Homo sapiens: one gene and its partners. The protein of the gene in region 3 purifies or fractionates together with the protein of the main gene of each other region. This does not show direct contact. Each region holds a gene or a part of one and is shown on either strand. Other genes may lie near its edges. The genes, in order: PLOD1, CREB3L2 and PABIR2.

Region 1 (3,476 bases), on a different chromosome or scaffold from region 3:
AAGACTTTCAGGCCTGGGATGGTGGCTCACGCCTGTAATCCAGTACTTTGGGAGGCCGAGGCGGATGGATCACCTGAGGTCAGGAGTTCGAGACCAGCCTGGCCAACACGGTGAAATGAAACCCCGTTTCTACAAAAAATACAAAAATGTGTCAGGCATGGATACCTATAATCCCAGCTACTCAGGGGTCGAGAGGCTAGCATGACCTTTCTTAAAGGCTCTAAAAAGAGGGCTCTTGGCCGGGCACGGTGGCTCATGCCTGTAATCCCAGCACTTTGGGAGGCCGAGGTGGGTGGATCATCTGAGGTCAGGAGTTCAAGACCAGCCAGACCAACCTGGTGAAACCCTTTCTTTAATAAAAAAACAAAAATTAGCCAGGCGTGGTGATGGGTGCCTGTAGCCCCAGCTGCTCGGAAGGCTGAGGCAGGAGAATTACTTGAACCCAGGAGGCGGGGGTTGCAGAAAGCGGGGATAGCGTCATTGCACTCCAGCCTGGAAGACAGAGTGAGACTCTGTCTCAAAAAAAGAAAAAAAAAAAAAAAGAGGGCTCTTAAAACCTCTCTCCCTGCAGACACTCACACCAAGACACACACACACCCACTCGCCCTGAGCATCTTCCCTTCAGTGGTTTAAATGACCTTTAATAGAAACTCTCCAGTTTCTGACGGTCTGTCCCTCTCTTCAGAGGCATCCAGGACAGGGTGACCCAGTGTGGTGTGTGGACCTGTCACTCCCCTCCCCACAGGCAAGTAGAAGATCGAGCTGTGCACAGATGCCTCTTCTGTCTCCCAAGAGGTTCTCTGGAGTCGCTGTCTCCAGGGGACTACGGTTTGCTCTCATGACCAGCCATGGAGGCAGAAGTCCCAGACTCAGGGCAGCCCTTGGAGTCTGATCCAGGTGTCTTTACCCCAAAACTTGAAGCAGAAGTCCCTGGTGCAACACCTGTGCCTGGGAGAAGCTCTGGCCATGGCTTCTCACCCAGACAGTCTTTCTGGGCAACTTGGGGAAGCCCCTGTTCTGCTCAAGTCTCACCCCATGGAAGAGGTGGGGGAAGGGGGCCTTGGTTTTTCAGGAAGACAGGTTGGAGAGCACGAGTCACTACAAAGCAGTAAAAGTGAATGGTGTCTCCAGGGGCTGGGTCCAGAACACCACGGAGAGCCCCAGCCATAAAGGTGTGTTCCGCCTCTGGCCTGCAGGAATCTCTTTGAATCTCTTTGATTGGTGGCTCCAAGAGCAATGGGAAGTCAACAGCCAGGAGGCTGGACTGGGTTCCCTGGGACCCCGAGGTCCCAGAGGCTGCTGGGCAGTGGTTGTCGGCAAAGAAGAAAGGTCCAAGAGGGTCAGGCCTGGCCAATTAGGGATCGACGAAGGAGACTGCGATGTAGCGGGTGCCCCTGGTGGTGGGGAGCCCCTCATGGTAATGCGTGAGTCGTCCAGGGTGCATGAGGGTCCAGCCCTTCCTTGGGGCTCGGATGGAACAGTTGTAGCGCAGGAACCGACAGCCCCCGCCCTGGGAGACAGAAAGCATCAGTGGCCTTTCCCCACCGCCCCCCTGCCCGTCTGTTCTCCCGTCATGATCTCCTGTCATGGCCAAGTGGCCCTCAGCACTGCCTGCCTGGGGATGCCTTCTGGAGTGACAGCCACAAGCGCTGCTAAGGAAGACACTAAATGAAGAGTAGTGGCCAGGAGTGGTGGCTCACGCCTGTAATCCCAGCACTTTGGCAGGCCAAGGCGGGTGGACCACCTGAGGTCAGGAGTTCAAGACCAGCATGGCCAACATGGTGAGACCCCATCTCTACTAAAAATACAAAAACCAGCTGGGTGTAGCAGCGCACGCCTGTAATCCCAGCTATTCGGGAAGCTGAGACAGAATCACTTGAACCCAGGAGGCAGTGAGCCGAGATCGCGCCACTGTACTCCAGCCTGGGCAACAGAATGAGACTGTCTCAAAAAAAAAAAAACCCAAAGAGTAAGTGATCAAGAGCTCTGTCCTTGGAGTCAGGCAGCCCTGGGCAGACATCACCTCCACTCTTTACTAACTGTGACCAACCTGAGCTTCAGTTTCCCCTTCTGTAAAATGAGGGTTAAACAGAACAGGATAGTGAGAATTAAATGAGATGTTACAATTGAGAGCTGAGGATCAAGCTTCCCAACCTCACCACTATAGACACTTTGCTGTGGAAGGCTGTCCCGGGCATCTCTGACTTCTACCCACTAGATGCCAGTAGCCCCTCATAGTTGTAAAAACCAATTATGTCTCCAGGTACTGCCAATGTCCCTTGCAGGCCACAGTTGCTCCTGGTTGAGAATCCTTGGATTAGGGATGCCTGATATGTTTGTTGTAAGCTCTCAAAAAATTATAGCTCCAGCCTGGGCAACATAGTGAAACCCCATCTCTAAAAGCAAGAAAAAAAATTAGCTGGCCATGGTGGCACACGCCTGTGGTCCCAACTACTTGGGGGGGCTGAGGTGGGAGGATTGCTTGGGCCCAGGAGGTTGAGGCTGCAGTGAACTGTGATCATGCCACTACACTCCAGCCTGGGTGACAGAGCAAGACCCTGTCTCGAAAAAGAAAAAAAAAAGGATTATAGCTGTTTTTATGAGTGTTCTCCACAGCACCCAGCCCAGGGCTAAGTTCAAAAAACCTCTTTTTGTTTTTTTTGGAGACAGAGTCTCGCTCTGTTGCCCAGGCTGGAGTGCAGTGGCATGATCTCAGCTCACTGCAACCTCCACCTCTTGGGTTCAAGAGATTCTCATGCCTCAGCCTTCTGGGTAGCTAAGATTACAGGTGTGTGCTACCACGCCCAGCTAATTTTTCTATTTTTAGTGGAAATGGGGTTTCGCCATGTTGGCCAGGCTGGTCTCAAACTCCTGGCCCCAAGTGATCTGCCTGCCTTGGCCTCCCAAACTGCTGGGATTGCAGGCATCAGCCACCATGCCGAGCCCAAAAATCTCTTAAAATAGTAGCTTAAGAGCCTGGCCCCTCCTCCTGCTAGACTGTGAACCCTTCCAGGAAGCCCTCCCACAGACCCACATCCTTTTTTTTCTGGTTCTCTGGCACTGGTTACCTGGGGCCCCTCTGCCTCAACCACCCTGAAGCCTCTCCTCAGCTAGCCCTCCTCATCCCCATTGCCGGCCCCTTGACCCCGGCTGGCTCCTGCTCACCTCGTAATCCACCCCGACTCGGTTCAGGGCGATGTTGATGGTGAAGGTGGAGGCATCATGGTGTGGCATCAGTGAGGGCTGCTCATCAGGCTTGTAGCGGACGACAAAGGCCAGGTCAAACTGGGCCTGTACCAAGGCAGGGGGACAAGAGAGCCCGTGTTAGTTAAGGAGGACACAAAGGCCAGGAGAGGAGGGTGCACACATGGGGCCTGGTCTGGCCTGCTGCAGGTCAGCTTACAGGGGCCAGGTCTACATGGGGCTCTATGCTCGAGTGCCTGCAACTACCTGGCACAGAAAAGGTTCTCAACAAA
Region 2 (3,655 bases), on a different chromosome or scaffold from region 3:
TTTTAACCCCCTAGTCATAGTCCTTGTCATGATCAGCTTCTTCTTCAATCCTGTATCATTTAGGAAAAGTAAAGAATATGCATGTATGTGTACATGTATGTGCATATGAGAGTGTGTACATATGTGTATTGTGGATGTGAACATGAGAGCATGTGTGCATATGTGTTTGTATATGTGCAAGAGTAGCACGTGTGCATGCGTGTGTGTGTAGCAGGAGTGGGTGGGTGGAGTTTGGCCATGCTGAGCATCTCAGCACAACTGCACTTTCACTGTGACCTCCTCCACTTTTCTGCCATCCCTGGTTCTGGATTCTATCCTCTTCCTTCCCCATCTTCCATTGGTAGCGCAATCAGCTCTCAGTCCAGTGACACTTACCTATTAGTGTTCTCTAGAACCTCTACCTTCTTCCGAAGCTCCAAGTTCTCAGTTGAACAAGACTCCACTCTACAAAGGAGGGAGAAAGAAGAAAATTATTATCCATAGAGCAAACACTAAGCTAGGAGCTAGGGTGGAGGTAGGTGGGGATGAGGAAAAGGAGGGTTGGGGGGATCTGCCACCCCATGGAAGTGTGGGAAAGTATTGAAAGAAGGATGAAGAGACTTAAGAAAAAAAAAAAAATAGGCCGGGCACGGTGGCTCACGCCTGTAATCCCAGCACTTTGGGAGGCCGAAGCAGGCGGATCACAAGGTCAGGAGATAGAGACCATCCTGGCCGACATGGTGAAACCCTGTCTCTACTAAAAATACAAAAATTAGCTGGGCGTGGTGGCACGTGCCTGTAATCCCAGCTACTCGGGAGGCTGAGGCAGGAGAATCGCTTGAACCCAGGAGTCAGATGTTGCAGTGAGCCAAGATCGCCACTGCACCCCAGCCTTGTGACAGAGCAAGATCTGTCTCAAAAAAAAAAAAAAAAAAGAAAAATAGAAGGAGCTGGGGCCGGGCGTAGTGGCTCATGTCTATAATCCCAGTAATTTGGGAGGCTGAGGCAGGCAGATCACTTGAGGTCAGGAGCTCAAGAATAGCCTGGCCAACATGGTGAAACCCCATCTCTACTAAAAATGCAAAAATTAGCTGAGCATGGTGGTGTGTGCCTGTAATCCGAGCTACTTGGGAGGCTGAGACAGAAGAGTCACTTGAACCTGGGAGGCAGAGGTTGCAGTGAGCCAAGATCATGCCACAGCACTCCAGCCTGGGCCACAGAGCGAGACTCTGTCTCCAAAAAAAAAAAAAAAAAAGAGGGAGCTGAGTGATGAGTGCCTGAATAATGAAAGATGAATAGTGACAGTACAAAATATGACCCTCTTTTAGGGTGTTACAACCTCTTTCCTCTCACCTCCTCCCTAGTGTTCTCAATGCCCATCATACTTCTCCCTCTATACTACAGTAATCTGGATACTCCCAGCTACACTCTTACCAGGACTGATAAGAAGTGAAGAGACTTAAGCAAAGGGCAGGACGAGAGCCCAGGACTAGGAATCCTGGTGCTGGGGCACGCATGCCCAAAAGAGACAGTAAAGAGACTTTCATAGGAACATCTTGACCCTGGATGCCCATAGAAAATGGTGGGACAGCATGGGACTACAGTCTTCCCACGGTATTCAGGGGGGATTAGTTCCAGAACTCCCCACAGATACCAAAATCTCCAGATGCTCGAGTCCCTGATTAAAAAATGGTGTAGTATTTGTATATAACCTTTACATATCCTCCAGTATATGTTAATCATCTCTAGGTTATTTATAATACCAAACACAATGTAAATACTATGTAAATATGTGTTATCTTGTATTTATAGTTGTATTATTTTTTATTGTTGTAGTTTTTTTTTATTGAGTTGTTTGGTTTTGGCTTTGGTTTTTTGAGACAGAGTCTCACTCTATCATCAAGGCTATAGTGCAGTGGCACAATCACAGCTCACTGCAGCCTCAACTTCCTGGGCTCAAGTGATTCTCCCCTCTCAGCCTCCTGAGTAGCTGGGACCACAGATGTGCACCACCATGCCTGGCTAATTTTTTTTTATTTTTTAGGGGGTCTGGCTATGTTGCCCAGGCTGGTCTTGAACTCCTGAGCTCAAGCAATCCTCTCACCTTGGCCTCCCAAAGCACGGGGATTATAAGAGTGAGCCATCACACCCAGCCTATTGAAGTTTTTTTCTGAATATTTTAGACCCATGGTTGGTTGAATCTGAGGACGCTGAACCCCCAGATATGGAGAGCCAACTATACTTAATGCTGCATTACCAGTACTTAAGTCAGGTGATAGAAGCACTAAACTTTCAATAGTAGCTTTGAGAAACAGCCAGGAACCACCAGCCACTCCTTTCCCCAGATCCACATGAAGTTCATTTCTGGGTCTGGGGCCTCATGCCCATCTTAAAAATATCTTGGTTTGTTAGCTAAAGAACTAACTTCCAGGGCTAAGACAAAACTGTATTTAATTCATCTTTTTCTAACAGCCCGCCTGATATTACAGACTTTTCAAAAGAACAAAGATTGCCTTCAAGTGTTTTTGCAAAAAAAAAAAAACATGAATTGTAGTGGCTGGAAAATAAAGGCTGCCAACCTGACATCTTTCTTTCCCTATGTGCCCTCTCTAGAGCATGAAGGAGTGTGGCCAATGGGGGCTGATTAAGTAGCACTGCTCCTTTCAGCTAAAACAGGGCTTCTCCTGCTAGAAGTTCCAGGAATGTGCAGGAATGTTAATATTTGTATGTGTTTGAAAAGAAGTCTGTGAGGACTCCGGGGTCCTTGGCTGGCAGTGGTATGATTCAAACACCTACTAAGGTACTTTCACTTCTTTCTTGCTTTATTATAGACGTCTCCTCCAAATAACCACTAGGTGGCAGGCAAACCACAGCTGATAAACCACCGGGTTTCCAAGGTGGCCAGAAAGAGGAATTGAACTGCTTCTCCCCGATTCTCCGCACACCCATATTTCCCTGTGCATACTGCCCGATGAACGCAACAGTTTGCCAGCAGGCTTACTTTTTCTCCAGGCTGTCCATGTATTCTTTCTTCTTTCTCCTACTTTCCTGAGCAGAAATCTGAGAGAGAGGAGTGGGAGGAGAATGATTAATTTCCAGCTCTGTAAGTAAACCAGTTAAGATGGGAGGTGGTTAGCGTAGAAGTCACCAAAGCCCTGCTTACTTCTGCAAGCTGCTTGCCATTTGTTTAAGCTGCTGGTTCATTGACTAGTCTGTCCTCCCGGGTTTCTAGCTGCCAAACTCACACCTACTTTCCTACAAACCAGGCCACCAGTAAAATGGACACTGAGTGGCCAGGAGCAGTGGCTTACACCTGTAATCCCAACACTTTGGGAGGCTGAGGTGGGCGGATCACTTGAGGTCAGGAGTTCGAGACCAGCCTGGCCAACATGGTGAAACCCTGTCTCCATTAAAAATACAAAAAAATGGCAGGCGCAGTGGCTCTAGCCTGTAATCCCAGCACTTTGGGAGGCCAAGGCGGGTAGATCACCTGAGGTCAGGAGTTCAAGACCAGCCTGGGCAACATGGTAAAACCCCGTCTACTAAAAATACAAAAATTAGCTGGGCGCGGTGGTGCATGCTTGTAATCCCAGCTAATTGGGAGGCTGAGGCAAGAGAATCGCTTGAGTCCGGGAGGCAGAGGTTGCAGTGAGCTGACATTGTGCCACTGCACTCC
Region 3 (3,655 bases):
ATTCTCCTGCCTCAGCCTCCCGAGTAACTGGGATTACAGGCGCCTGCCACCAGGCCCAGCTAATTTTTCTATTTTTAGTAGAGACGAGGTTTCACCATGTTGGCCAAGCTGGTCTTGAACTCTTGACCTCAGGTAATCCACCAGCCTCGGCCTTCCAAAGTGCTAGGATTACAGGTGTGAGCCACTGCGCCCAGCCACAAAAAGCTAATCTGAGAGATAAATGTAATGAATGGTACTTCAACCACATTTAAAATTCAAGTTTGCTTACCTTGAAAATCGTCTTGGACTGGGAACTGGACTTGGTGGCAATCCACTGCTGCTCACGAACATCTGTAAGAAGGGTGAAAAACATTACTAGAAAAAACATATTCAATATTAAAATAGTTCTAGCACTCCAGTTTTCTTTCTTTTTTTTTTTTTTTTTTTTTTTTAGAGACAGGGTCTCTCTTTTGCTCAAGCTGGAGTGCAGTGATGCGATCATAGCTTACTGCAGCCTCGAACTCTTGGGCTCAAGCCATCTTCCTGCCCCACCTTCTTGATGAGCTAGGACTACAGGTGTGCGCCACCATGCCCGACTAATTTTTTTGTATCTATTTTTTTTTTTTTAATGTAGAGATGGGGTCTCGCCATGTTGCCCAGGCTGCTCTCGACCTCCTGAGCTCAAGTGATCCTCCCACCTTGGCCTCCCAAAGAGTTGGAATGATTACAGGTATAAGCCACCATACCAGGCCCACAATCATTTTCAAAAGGTTCTTTTCAAAATGACAGAAACAATATCTTTAGAATTGCTTGGCTGTCTGTGTGTCTCATAACTAAATTACATATATATATATGTAATATATATGTAATATACACGTTATATATATGTAATATACACGTTATATGTGTAATATATACACGTTATATATGTGTAATATATACACGTTATATATGTGTAATATATACGTTATATATGTGTAATATATACACGTTATATATGTGTAATATATACACGTTATATATGTGTAATATATACACGTTATATATGTGTAATATATACACGTTATATATGTGTAATATATACACGTTATATATGTGTAATATATACACGTTATATATGTGTAATATATACACGTTATATATGTGTAATATATACACGTTATATATGTGTAATATATACACGTTATATATGTGTAATATATACACGTTATATATGTGTAATATATACACGTTATATATGTGTAATATATACACGTTATATATGTGTTATATATGTTATATATGTGTTATATATACGTTATATATGTAATATATACGTTATATATGTAATATGTTATATATATGTAATATATATGTTATATATATATATATTTTAAGAAGACCAAGAATATACATATATATATGTATATTTTCCAAATTACTGCTGTAGATTTTCATTGATTTTCCTTCAAGGCATTGGATACTTTAAAAGTGGGGTGATTTGTGTGTGTTTTAGAGTAAACAGCTCAGTTTGTGAAATACACTTAATATCTTGTCAGTTATCCTACCTTTCCGAATCCCCTGGTGGGTGAAGGTGCTGGAGAAACTGGAGTGAAGTCAATTCTCTTAGGAGAATATAATTTCTCCGGCTTGTCAAAATCACTGTCACTCTGTAAACATAAAGTGTCATCTCCTCATAATAAATTCAGCACATCACAGCTCTTACTTACTACTATAACACACCCAGATTTTCCAAGGAGAAAGGTATAGACTCTAATATTCTGCTGGAAAAGCAGAGATCAAAAAACAAGTATCAATTTGGAAGTAGAAGGGGAAAGAAGTGTGCGAAAAAATTAATGAACCTAGTGAACAACATAAAAGTTTCTAGAAAATGAAAACCAAACAGACATGAGCAAACTTTACCAGGCTCAAGCTCTCATCCCATGATTGGCTTATCTGCATTGCCGTTTGCATTTCCCTAAAATAAACAAAGGGAAGGGCCGTCAGTGTTTACAAACAAGACACTTATTAGGCTAGGCCCTGCTCTTGCAAAGCACTAACCTTTCATGTGCAGTTTCTCTGTTCACCATATCCAGGCCTTCTTCCTGCAAAGACAAACATATATGCTAAAAAGGCAGGATCACTGACAAAATATTAACTCTTCCACACACTGCAATTTTTATCCACATAGTTCTCTGCTTCAAATAAAATAAAAAGACTTTTTCTACCTCATTGACATAATCACAGTAGAGTGGAACATTCATGCCGCTTGTATATTTTATCTACACGCTCCAGAAGAATTATAATCTGTCTCCAACTAACCAGAGTTGCATCCTAATTCATTTTAATATCTACGTCTTTAAAATAAAAATGTAAAATCCAAAAAATTTCCAATCTGAGCTAGTAAGTAAAATTTACCCTTTTGATCTGATGCAGTCTGCTACTAGGAATACGATTAGGTGAGGATGACAGCAACTGGAAAGAAAAAGTAAACATTTACTATTTTCTGAATCACAAAGCAGCAGTCTGCTGTCAGTACTGGCGTACAACCTCTTCCTAGGTAAGTTTTCATATTCTTCTTCAAAATTTAGCTCTTTAGATCACTGAACGTTAATGCACTAAAGGCAGTACATTTAGTCTTCAAAAAGTACACCAGGTGTCCAACCTCAAAGCGCCATCTGTTGCTAGACAGACACTGACTTCAGCACTTTTCCCAAATGAATGTGAAGCTACGTAAATTTAGAGAAATAAAGACTATGGGCCTTAGAAATATCCATTATCCCACTTATCTAAAATAAAGAACAATATGAGAAGGGAAAGAAAAAAAAACACCAATGTTATTAATTTTTATTATCAATGCAGCAATGGGGGAAGACAGGCTAATAAGTCTAGTATATAATATTTTGTCTATGATTGATGATTTTCAAAAACACTTTAAAACTGCAATAAGGAGGTTTTGCTTTCACGATCCAAATCCATTCTAAAATCTCATCATATGCTATCACTACAAATCTTACTAGTTAACAAAAAACAATTTGGAAAGACAAGGTGTATCTTTAAAATAACTGATGCTTTCCCTTAGATCATCATTTTTTAATAACACAAAGCAGAAATGATTTGGAGGCCAAATTATGTTCCTTCACAATAATTACAAGCTGGTCACAAACTGTAAGACACAATTCATATCAACAGGTCTTAGAGAGTTCTAGTGGTCATAATATAAACGACTACTATTTATTCTATAACGAAATGCAAGTGAACTTGTAATACTATAAAACCAAATAACAATTATCCTGTTTAAGAGGCCCTACACTATTAAAACTTATTTGAATACTAATGTAGTGAGCAGTATAAAATAGTGATAAAATGCTCTAAGTTTCTTTTTATTTTTTTTTGAGACAGAGTTTCGCTCTTGTTGCCCAGGCTGGAATGCAATGGCATGATCTCTGCTCACTGCAACTTCCGCCTCCCAGGTTCAAGTGATTCCCCTGCCTCAGCCTCCTGAGTAGCTGGGACTACAGGCACACACCACCATGCCCAGCGAATTTTTACAACCATTAAGGGAGACTGGAGTATAAGATAAATGTATTTTAGTAGAGACGGGGTTTCATCATGTTGGCTAGGATGATCTCGATCTCCTGACCTCGTGATCCTCCTGCCTTGGCCCTCCAAAGTGCTGGGATTACAGGCGTGAGCC

What was found.
Region 1: the proteins of PABIR2 (region 3) and PLOD1 purify together in Homo sapiens (affinity purification with mass spectrometry; 2 studies listed by BioGRID and IntAct, with this or other methods). This does not show direct contact.
Region 2: the proteins of PABIR2 (region 3) and CREB3L2 purify together in Homo sapiens (co-immunoprecipitation; one large-scale study listed by IntAct). This does not show direct contact.

The regions. Positions count from the first base shown.
Region 1 is NC_000001.11:11,972,687-11,976,162, reverse strand, and holds the end of PLOD1 (procollagen-lysine,2-oxoglutarate 5-dioxygenase 1 isoform 2 precursor), read right to left. Parts: intron 3,292-3,476; coding exon 3,166-3,291; intron 1,511-3,165; coding exon 1,355-1,510; 3' UTR 626-1,354; downstream 1-625. UniProt on the Homo sapiens protein: Part of a complex composed of PLOD1, P3H3 and P3H4 that catalyzes hydroxylation of lysine residues in collagen alpha chains and is required for normal assembly and cross-linkling of collagen fibrils.
Region 2 is NC_000007.14:137,900,979-137,904,633, forward strand, and holds part of CREB3L2 (cyclic AMP-responsive element-binding protein 3-like protein 2), read right to left. Parts: intron 3,040-3,655; coding exon 2,981-3,039; intron 445-2,980; coding exon 376-444; intron 1-375. UniProt on the Homo sapiens protein: Transcription factor involved in unfolded protein response (UPR).
Region 3 is NC_000023.11:134,787,204-134,790,858, forward strand, and holds part of PABIR2 (PABIR family member 2), read right to left. Parts: intron 2,434-3,655; coding exon 2,377-2,433; intron 2,064-2,376; coding exon 2,020-2,063; intron 1,937-2,019; coding exon 1,882-1,936; intron 1,629-1,881; coding exon 1,527-1,628; intron 331-1,526; coding exon 269-330; intron 1-268.